Regions from separate parts of the Homo sapiens genome. Here regions 1 and 3 are each reported to be linked to region 2. The links are microRNA targets in miRTarBase. Many come from high-throughput screens and were not tested one by one. Region 2 holds a microRNA gene; each other region holds the end of a gene's coding sequence.

The links. The annotated mature microRNA hsa-miR-6893-3p reads CCCUGCUGCCUUCACCUGCCAG and lies in region 2 at 2,166-2,187, shown strand. An mRNA with a match to its seed (bases 2 to 7 or 8) in the 3' UTR can be bound and repressed. Matches are read on the target gene's strand: a 7mer-m8 pairs with bases 2 to 8, a 7mer-A1 pairs with bases 2 to 7 and ends in A, and an 8mer does both.
Region 1: miRTarBase lists ZSWIM9 as a target of hsa-miR-6893-3p. Seed matches in the 3' UTR shown: 7mer-A1 at 800-806 and 7mer-m8 at 993-999.
Region 3: the mRNA of WDPCP is a reported target of hsa-miR-6893-3p. Seed matches in the 3' UTR shown: 7mer-A1 at 1,619-1,625.

What each region holds. Positions count from the first base shown.
Region 1 is chr19:48,196,563-48,199,562 of GRCh38, forward strand. ZSWIM9 (zinc finger SWIM-type containing 9) reads left to right here. Exons shown (of 4, transcript NM_199341.4): 4 at 1-1,058. The coding sequence ends at 265. Among named protein-coding and RNA genes, the nearest start is that of ZSWIM9, 27 kb to the left of the region's middle. RefSeq lists an enhancer at 1-464.
Region 2 is chr8:144,434,394-144,437,737 of GRCh38, reverse strand. It overlaps MIR6893 (microRNA 6893), which reads left to right and starts at 2,119; the gene lies at 2,119-2,187. TONSL (tonsoku like, DNA repair protein) reads left to right here. Exons shown (of 26, transcript NM_013432.5): 14 at 639-711; 15 at 818-981; 16 at 1,057-1,180; 17 at 1,320-2,080; 18 at 2,188-2,264; 19 at 2,568-2,721; 20 at 2,849-2,927. It overlaps TONSL-AS1 (TONSL antisense RNA 1), which reads right to left and starts at 2,570. Exons shown (of 6, transcript NR_109770.1): 1 at 2,298-2,570; 2 at 743-987; 3 at 1-39.
Region 3 is chr2:63,119,017-63,122,360 of GRCh38, forward strand. It overlaps WDPCP (WD repeat containing planar cell polarity effector), which reads right to left. Exons shown (of 18, transcript NM_015910.7): 18 at 543-3,040. The coding sequence ends at 2,990. It also overlaps the pseudogene DBIL5P2. Among named protein-coding and RNA genes, the nearest start is that of OTX1, 70 kb to the left of the region's middle.

The DNA.
Region 1 (3,000 bases), not on the chromosome of region 2:
GCTGGCAGACCTGGTGGCTGAGGAGTTGGCCTTTGCTAGGCAGCATGGGACCCGGGGTTTCCACTGGACCGGAGCTGGCTTTGCCCTTAAGGACGGCACCTCGGACTTCTTCCTGGATGGGGCCCTGACACGCTGCAGCTGCTCAATTCACGCCGCCCGCCGTCTGCCCTGCAGACACCTCTTTGCAGCGCGCCTCCTCACTGGGGCTGCCTTATTCCACATGGACCTGCTCAGGGATTGCTGGGGGAGAGCCCCAGAGCCCTGACCCTTCATGCCTCTGCCCACCACCCTCCACCAGGAGGGTCGGAGGGCATTCTTCGATCCCAAAGATAATAGGGCTGAGGCCAAGGAGACCGTTGCAGTCCCCCTGGCCACCTTCTGGGTCATCCAGGGACCTCCTCATGGCAGTTTGCCTCTCTGGGTCCAAGGGCAAGCTGTAAGTGGTCTCTGAGGTCCTGGAGCCACAGCTTGGGAAGGTGTTGATGGGCAGGGTGGATTCTGAGGGCTTCCCTCTGGAGAGGAAGCATGTGATGAGAGGTGTAGACAGGGTCAGGCTGGGACAGAAGGAAGGAAAGGGGCAGAGCTGGGGGGAGGGGGAGGAAGCGATCATATGGGGAGTGTCTGGCAAGAGTAGACTGGCCAGTCTAGGGAGTGCAGCGGGGAGAGGGGAAAGGGAGAAAGTACAGAAGACAGATGAAGGAGAGGAGGTAAGCGAGAAAAAATGGAAAGGGGAGCCGGAAATGGAGGAGAGAGGACAAGCAAAGAGACAGAAATGAAGACATGAGGAAAAGCTGGGGGAAGCAGGAGAGGAAGGGACGGGATGTAGGAGGGGGAAGAAAAATCGGAGATGAGACAAAAGAAATGTGTGGGAGACGGGTAGAGACGAAATGCAAGGGGCGTGGTTTTGGTTTTTCTCCAAGACCTGGAGACATCGACCCCCATCGCCTTCTGAAGAGAGAGGGAGGGCGGGCACTGGGGGTCAGGAGAGTCTCCAGCAGGGGAGGGGAATTGTTTGGACTATTGTTCTTCAGGATTGGAATAAAACAATCTTATTTTGGTTTCCGTGATGAGTTCTTGGCTTCTGGGGTTGGTTGGGAGTCCCAGATCCAGGGAACAGTTGAGATGGTCCAGCGTTCCTTCATTCTTTCTACCGACAAGGCCTCCTGGGGCCAGATGGATAGAGGAGCCACAATGAATTCATCTCCATAGCAACTCAAGCTTCCTCCTCCATCATCTGGACCAGTGCGTCCCAGTGGCAACTTCTTGACATGAGTCGATTCTACCTTCAAATGACTGACTCATGCCAAATGTCCTGGCCACAGAATGGGCCTGTGACCCAGTCCTGGTCAACGAGTCTGCTCAGGTTGAGGTGGGAGGCTTTTTTATTTTTATATTTTTGTAGAAACAGGGTCTTGCTATGTTACTCAGGCTGGTCTTGGACTCCTCGGCTTAAGCAATCCTCCTGCCACAGCCTCCCAAAGTGCTGGGATTACAGGTGTGAGCCACTGTGCTCAGAACTAGGAAGCTTTTTTTTTTTTTTTTTTGAGTCTTGCTCTGTTACCCAGGCTGGAATGCAATGGCACGTTCCCGGCTCACTGCAACCTCCACCTCCCAGGTTCAAGTGATTTTCATACCTCAGTCACCTGAGTAGCTGGGATTACAGGTGTGCGCCATCACACCTGGCAAATTTTTGTATTTTTAGTAGAGACGGGGTTTCACCATGTTGGCCAGGCTGGTCTCAAACTCCTGACCTCAGGTGACCTGCTCGCCTCAGCCTCCTAAAGTGCTGGGATCACAAGCGTAAGCCACTGCGCCCGGCCTAGGAGGCTTCTAATAAAGATTCTATCACTCCTAAGAAGGCCTAGAGACATGATCAGGCCTAGACCTGCTGATGATTACCTTGGTATGGTGTGATAATGAAGTCCACACTGAGGATGACAGAGCTGAGATGAAGAAAATCTGGATCTTTGCTTGGCTCAGTTGAGTCTCTCGAGTCTGCTCTACCATGGGGCTTCTTAAGTAAAATATATCCTTTTTTGTTAGAGACAGTGTCTCGCTCTGGCCCAGGCTGGAGTGCAGTGGTGCAAACATAGCTCACTGCAGCCTTCCAGCTCTTGGGCCCAAGGGATCCTCCAGCTCAGCCTCCTGAGTAGCTAGGACTATAGGCTCGTGCTACCACCTAGCTAATTTCTTTTTCTTTTCTTTTCTTTTCTTTTTTTTAACTTTTTGTAAAGATGAGGTCTCTTGCTACGTTACTTGGGCTGTTCTCAAACTCCTGGCCTCAAGCGATGCCCCTGCTTCAGCCTCCCAAAGTGCTAGAATTACAGATGTGGGCCATTGCACCTGGCCAATCAAAGATACCCTAATGATTTAGGGAAGTTTGAGTTGGGGTTTCTGTTGTCGCAACTGATGAAGGGGATTTAATTCTATTATAGGTGACAAAGTCCAGGTTGAAGTAGCTCAGCATTTTTCAAACTTTAGCGTGGACGTGAGTCACGTGGGCACCTTCTTAAAATACAGAGTCTGACTCAGTAGGTCTAAGATAGGGCCCAACATTCTAGCAAGCTCTCCGATGATGTGGCTGTGCTGGGTTGTGGAGCACACTTTGAGTAGCAATGAAGGAACTTGAGATAAAAGACAATTCAGGCCGGGTGTGGTGGCTCACACCTGTAATTCCAGCACTTTGGGAGGCTGAGGTAGGTGGATCACTTAAGGCCAGGAGTTCAAGACCAGCCTGGCCAGCAAGGCAAAATCCTGTCTCTACTAAAAATACAAAAATTAGCCAGATGTGGTGGCGGGTGCCTGTAGTCCCAGCTACTTGGGAGGCTGAAGCATGAGAATTGCTTGAACCCAAGAGGCGCAGGTTGCAGTGAGCCAAGATCGTGCCACTGCACTCCAGCCTGGGTGACAGAGCGAGACTCTGTCAAAAAAAAAAAAAAAGAAAAAAAATGATTCAGTGGTTCAAGTCATGCGAAGTCAAAGGCTTTGATGGCAGCTGAC
Region 2 (3,344 bases):
CAGCTACTCGGGAGGCTGAGGCAGGAGAATCGCTTGAACCTGGGAGGCGGAGGTTGCGGTGAGATGAGATTGCGCCGCTGCACTCCAGCCTGGGTGACAGAGCGAGACTCTGTCTCAAAAAAAAACACAAAAAAATGGGGTGCCCAGGCTGGGCGCGGTGGTTCATACCTGTAATCCCAGCACTTTGGGAGGCCAAGGTGGGCAGATCACGAGGTCAGGAGCTTGAGACCAGCCTGGCTGGTCTCAAAAAAAAAATGGGGTACCTGCTGTGTGGTATGCATCTGTGTTACAGCTAAGTTGGTCAGCCTGGCCAGGATGGGGGCTAGCCCATGGGCTGAGATCTGGGCACCTTCCCGCCCCGCCTGCCTCATGCCCCTGCGACCAGGTGCACTGTCTCCCCACAAGGGGACCGGGCAGGCACAGAGGCGGAGGATATGCTGTGGCTGGTCCACCTGTCTCAGGGGGAAGCATGTCCTTCACTGGTGACACCTAGGCCGGAGGAGGAGAGGGCAGGGCCACGGACTTGCTCTGGGCTCTAAGACTGAGGCCCTGGGCTCAGCTTAGGCTGCAGAGCTCACGGGGCTGGGGCCAGGCTGTGAGGTACACAGGGCCAGGCTCCTTCCTGTCCTTGGTCACAGGGCCACCCCCTTAACCCTCGGGACTACTGTGGCTGGACACCTCTGCACGAGGCCTGCAACTACGGGCATCTAGGTGAGCAAGGGACAGAAGGAGCCTGGCGCACCTTGGTGGACACGTGGGGCGAAGAGTCAGTCCTGGCGGGGCATCGGGAGCTGGGCTTACGTCTCCTGGTCTGCAGAAATTGTCCGCTTCCTGCTGGACCACGGGGCCGCAGTGGACGACCCAGGTGGCCAGGGCTGCGAAGGCATCACCCCCCTCCACGATGCCCTCAACTGTGGCCACTTCGAGGTGGCTGAGCTGCTGCTTGAACGGGGGGCGTCCGTCACCCTCCGCACTCGAAAGGTGAGCCTGGTGGGGCAGAGGGCAAGGGCGAGGTTATGGGGGCTGCTGTGCCCCTGCTCAACTGATGCCACACAGGGCCTCAGCCCGCTGGAGACGCTGCAGCAGTGGGTGAAGCTGTACCGCAGGGACCTGGACCTGGAGACGCGGCAGAAGGCCAGGGCCATGGAGATGCTGCTCCAGGCGGCTGCCTCGGGCCAAGGCAAGCAGGGCGTCCCTTGTCCCTGGGGTTGCTGTGCCTACGCTGAGAGTCCCCGGGCCCTGATTTCGGGAGATGCTCCATCACAGGTGGAGCGGGAGGTGCCGGGCCCCTGCCTCAACACGCATTCTCTCTCCCACAGATCCCCACAGCTCCCAGGCCTTCCACACCCCAAGCAGCCTTCTGTTTGACCCCGAGACCTCTCCTCCTTTGAGCCCCTGCCCAGAACCCCCCTCTAATAGCACTAGACTCCCAGAGGCCTCTCAGGCCCATGTCAGGGTCTCCCCAGGGCAGGCGGCACCAGCCATGGCCAGGCCTCGGAGGAGCAGGCATGGGCCAGCCAGCAGCAGCAGCAGCTCAGAAGGCGAGGACAGCGCAGGCCCCGCACGGCCGTCCCAGAAGAGGCCTCGGTGCTCGGCCACAGCACAACGGGTGGCAGCCTGGACGCCTGGCCCCGCCAGCAACAGGGAAGCAGCCACAGCCAGCACCAGCCGGGCAGCCTACCAGGCAGCCATCCGGGGTGTGGGCAGTGCTCAGAGCCGGCTGGGGCCTGGCCCACCGCGGGGCCACAGCAAAGCCCTTGCCCCCCAGGCAGCGCTCATCCCGGAGGAGGAGTGCCTGGCCGGGGACTGGCTGGAGCTGGACATGCCCCTGACCCGCAGCCGCCGGCCCCGCCCCCGGGGCACTGGAGACAACCGCAGGCCCAGTAGTACCTCTGGGTCGGACAGTGAGGAGAGCAGGCCCCGTGCCCGAGCCAAGCAGGTCCGCCTGACCTGCATGCAGAGTTGCAGTGCGCCAGTTAACGCAGGGCCCAGCAGCCTGGCTTCAGAACCTCCAGGGAGCCCCAGCACCCCCAGGGTCTCAGAGCCCAGTGGGGACAGCTCTGCGGCAGGCCAGCCCTTGGTGGGTATGCAGACCTGGAGCAGAGCCCTCTCCCCACTCCGGGCAGGCAGGTGTAGGGTGGAGCCCACTGTGGCTCCTGACTCAGCCCTGCTGCCTTCACCTGCCAGGGTCCGGCCCCGCCCCCTCCCATCCGGGTTCGAGTTCAAGTTCAGGATCATCTCTTCCTCATCCCTGTCCCACACAGGTGAGGCATCGCCTGCCCTACCCCGCAGCCCACCTGTGCAGCTCCATGCCAGGGTGCTCGTGTTTGCATGTCAGGGTGGGGCGTGTGACGAGGGCTCCCTGGTGTGTTCCAGGAGGATCCTGTGGCCCCCAGGAATAGCAGAGGGGCTGGTGGTGTGCTGGGCTGCAGGGAGAGGAGGGGCCGGCTACCTGGGAATGGGAGAAGCAGCTGAGGGGGCTTCTGGCCCTGGGCAGGGATGGCGGGTCCCTGGGGCATTACCCCGGCTGTGTGCAGGCAGCAGCAGCAGCGCCTCTGTCCCTGCAGCAGTGACACCCACTCTGTGGCCTGGCTGGCCGAGCAGGCGGCCCAGCGCTACTACCAGACCTGCGGGCTGCTGCCCAGGCTCACCCTACGGAAAGAGGGGGCCCTGCTGGCCCCACAGGACCTCATCCCTGATGTGCTGCAGAGCAATGACGAGGTGAGCCGCAGAGCGGAGGGGGAGCCAGGGCCTCAGGCACCGGGAGCCCCCGGGTGGCTCATGGCTGCAGAGCAATGATGAGGTGAGCCGGGGGAGCCCCCAGGTGGCTCATGACGGTGCCTTCCAGGTGTTGGCTGAGGTGACTTCGTGGGACCTGCCCCCGTTGACTGACCGCTACCGCAGGGCCTGCCAGAGCCTGGGGCAAGGTGAGGGCCAGGAGAGCTGCAGTTTCTGGGTGAGGTCGTACAAGGGGGTTGGGCACACAGGCTCCACCAGCCCGGTTCATTCCTGGGCCTCGGGTGTTTTGGGGTGCACCTCCCCCAGCCTGGTGGGTGCTGTGTCCTGCACTTGGATGTGTGGGTGGAAGGGAGAGGACAGCCCTCAGCCCCCATGATCTGCTGACAGGGAGATGGCAAAAAGCAGCCGAAAGCCTGGAAAGTCAAACCCAAGGAGGAGGGCCTGGCATGGGCTGGGAGCTGCTGGGGAAGCTTCCCAGAAAGCTTGTCCCGGGGGGTGTGGAATCTGGCAGTGACTGGTGGAGCTCAGGGTGCTGCAGACCCACCCCGGCCCCCAGGGCCTCACAGTGCTAGACCCACAGGCATGTGCGAGTGGGCTCTACAGCA
Region 3 (3,344 bases), not on the chromosome of region 2:
TTCAGCTTTTCTACTTTGGCAACATAGATCCTCATGGTGTCCATCTTAGACATCCCTTTGTTCACATTCCATGCCTCCTACTTGGCCTTGGCTTTCACATCTGAGGCTGAAGGGGCAGGGATGTTGCAGTCGCTCTGGGTGGGCTGTTTGCAGAAGCTGTACACCAGCAGTTTTCTCCTGATCGCACACAGTACCCTTCAGCTGCTTGAGGGCAGTGTGGGCCAGCTCAAACTCCACTTGGCACATTGTGGGAGGGGAGGCCAGGCCCCTCTGTCCTTTCTAGGTGACACCTGGTGCTAGAAGGCTCATCAGGTTTCTTCATCGATAGAGTAGGGATGATGATGATGATGTATCTTCCTCACTGAGTTTCATTGAGAATCCCTATGTAGGTACAGGGCTATGTGTGTTGTAGCACTGATCAAACTCTCAGTAGAGAGTGGTATAATTATAACTCCTTAACAAACATTTCAAGATACTAAGAAGAAAGTATAATACCAAGTTTTGGTTACACAGCCTTTTAATGAAGCAAAAACTTTTAGACATTAGCATTCCAAGCAAAGTTTATTCTAGCAATAAGACACAATGTGACAGCTAATATAAATTACTGTGGAAATTACCTCAGATCTGAGAAATCTGGAAAATAGTTGAAAAAGCTCATGGGTCTATTCCTAAAGGACAACCTGTGAACCTGTCAGTGCTAGGACAGATACTACCTAGCTGTTCCTGCCTATACCACTCTTCTTACTTTAGAGCTATGGTAGCCCCTTCATAATCCTTTCAGGTTCTAGCAGAGGAGGAATATCAATTTAATTAATATTCTCAGATTTACAACATCTGGGAAATAACAGCATTTATAAATCATGGACATTATCAAAGATCATTCATAATATATTCTTACTATCTAAACTTGGTTTTCTGTACATTTAACTTTTCTAGAGGTATGTGAAGTGGGGAAAATGGGTACTTTAAGAACTATGATTTGTTTAATTTTCACCTACATAACTGGCAAACATTTTCATTATTATTATCATTATGTAGAAAAACATAGATGTATCAATATCCATATTTTATCTTTAGTATCTCACAGGAAAGGTATTTTGGGTTAATGACTATTTACCCGGAAAATCTGGAGAAAATTCTGCAATCTTGACAAAACCCTATTTTTTTAAATACAATTTTTTCTCTAAAAATTAGTTAACTTTTGATTATCTGTGTGATAAAGAAGGTTGGGAATAGGAGAATGAAAATTTGCTGGTAACTCAGTTTGGCTTACATGTTATGCATTATTAAAATTTTTTCAGAGCAATAACAAAATGAAAAATCTAATTTGAGTTTCACCTTTTTTTGTCATACCCTCTGGTAGAGGTACAGATAAATGGGAAGTAGAAAGAAAAATTTGAAGTATAAAAGCCTTCAGTCTGATTAACTTTGAACTCTAAGATTTAATTATATAATGTAATTATTGTCTAATATTAAACAATGTTGATTATTATTATAGATGTCTATAATTTTTTTTTTTTTTTTTTTTGCAACGGAGTCTTACTTTGTCACCCAGGCTGGAGCGTAATGGTGCGACCTCAGCTCACTGCAGCCTCCGCCCTCCGGGTTCACGCCATTCTCCTGCTTCAGCCTCCCAAGTAGTTGGGACTACAGGTGCACGCCACCACGCCCGGCTAATTTTTTTTTTTTTTGTATTTTTAGTAGAGACGGGGTTTCACCATGTTGTCTAGGATGGTCTCCATCTCCTGACCTCGTGATTCGCCCGCCTTGGCCTCCCAAAGTGCTGGGATTACAGGCGTGAGCCACCGTGCCTGGCCTATAGATGTCTATAATTGTGAAATATCAGTTATCTGCTAAAGAATGGGTGTCAATAACTGTGAAGGGTATGAGATTTTACCCTACTTACTAGCTAACAAGTTACCACACTATAGTTTCATGGATGCTGTTAGAAGACATGAGACTCCTGAGTCAGAGACAAATGATAGTAACCAGGGTATCGGCATTTTTTTCTTTTCTTCATGGATTCTCTGAGCCCTATTCCTATAGAGCAATGTTAAGAGGGCTAGATGACACCTGCACACTCAATGGGCAGTGTAAAGGAGAGGCATTCTGAGTTTAAAGAACTCAAATCTCATATAAAAGTTGATAAGCATGCCTGCCCCTTTCTCCAGAGGGAAACAGTATCTGTGTTCTAAGGGGCAGTCAGGGCAAATTACTCATAGCAGTAATTCGAGAGAACCATGGAGAATTGTCTTCTAACAATGGATCTGGGCTGAAAAATTTGCATAATAAATACTGTATTTGTAATGTAAATTAATAATGTAAACAAGAGCAGAAGAGGACTTTCTTTCTTTCTTTTCTTTCTTTTTTTTTTTTTTTTTTTTTGGAGACAGGGTCACTCTCTGTTGCCCAGGTTAGAGTGCAGTGGCGCGATCACAGCTCACTGTAGCCTTGAACTCCTGGGCTCAAGCAATTCTTCTGCCTCAGCTTCACAAGCATGTACCACCATGCCTGGCTAATTTTTAAAATTTTTTCTAGAGACAGCGTTTCACTATGTTGCACAGGCTAGTCTTGAACTCCTGGGCTCAAGTGATCCTTCAGCCTTGGCCTCCTAAAGCACTGGGACTACAGGCATGAGCACTATGCCTGCCCCCTACTGCCCCTTTTTTAAAGTACCTGGGAGAACAAAGTTTAAATATTCTATTTTTGTAGCACCTAATTAACATACAATTTAAGACACTTTCAAAATTTTACATTATTGAAAATAAGTAGGTTGAAGACTTTTACTTACGATCACTTTGCTGTTATGCTGCATGTTTTTGAAATAATAAAACTTTATTTTGAAAACAAACACTCAACTCAAAACTCTTAACTAATTTATATGATTCATACTGTCTCTTGTTAAAAATCCACACGGGGGATTTTAAGTCTGTATCAGGCCATGAAAAGTTTAGATATGAAGAAGGCAGTTTTCTTTTTTTCTTAATGTTTACACCAGACCAAAGTGAATCATTTTGAGAGAACCACCATCTCTGATTTCCTGCAAATAAACAAATAAAAATAATGTTTAAGCAGAGTAAAAAGTAATTGACTTAACATTTGTATCTTTATTATTTTTAAGTACTGAAAAATAGTGAAACAAAATAAAATAGTTTAAAATGTACTGCACATAGATACATAAGATAACTGTATACTTACCTGACTTGGTCATCAAAATTTTGATACGATATTTATAAAAACTAGTCAAGAAATAATAAGCATTAAAAGGCAAAGAAAGGACAGGATGTTAATTGAAATTTAGAAGCATCTGAGGGTTCCTCCAATGAAAAATTGCAAACTGTGGG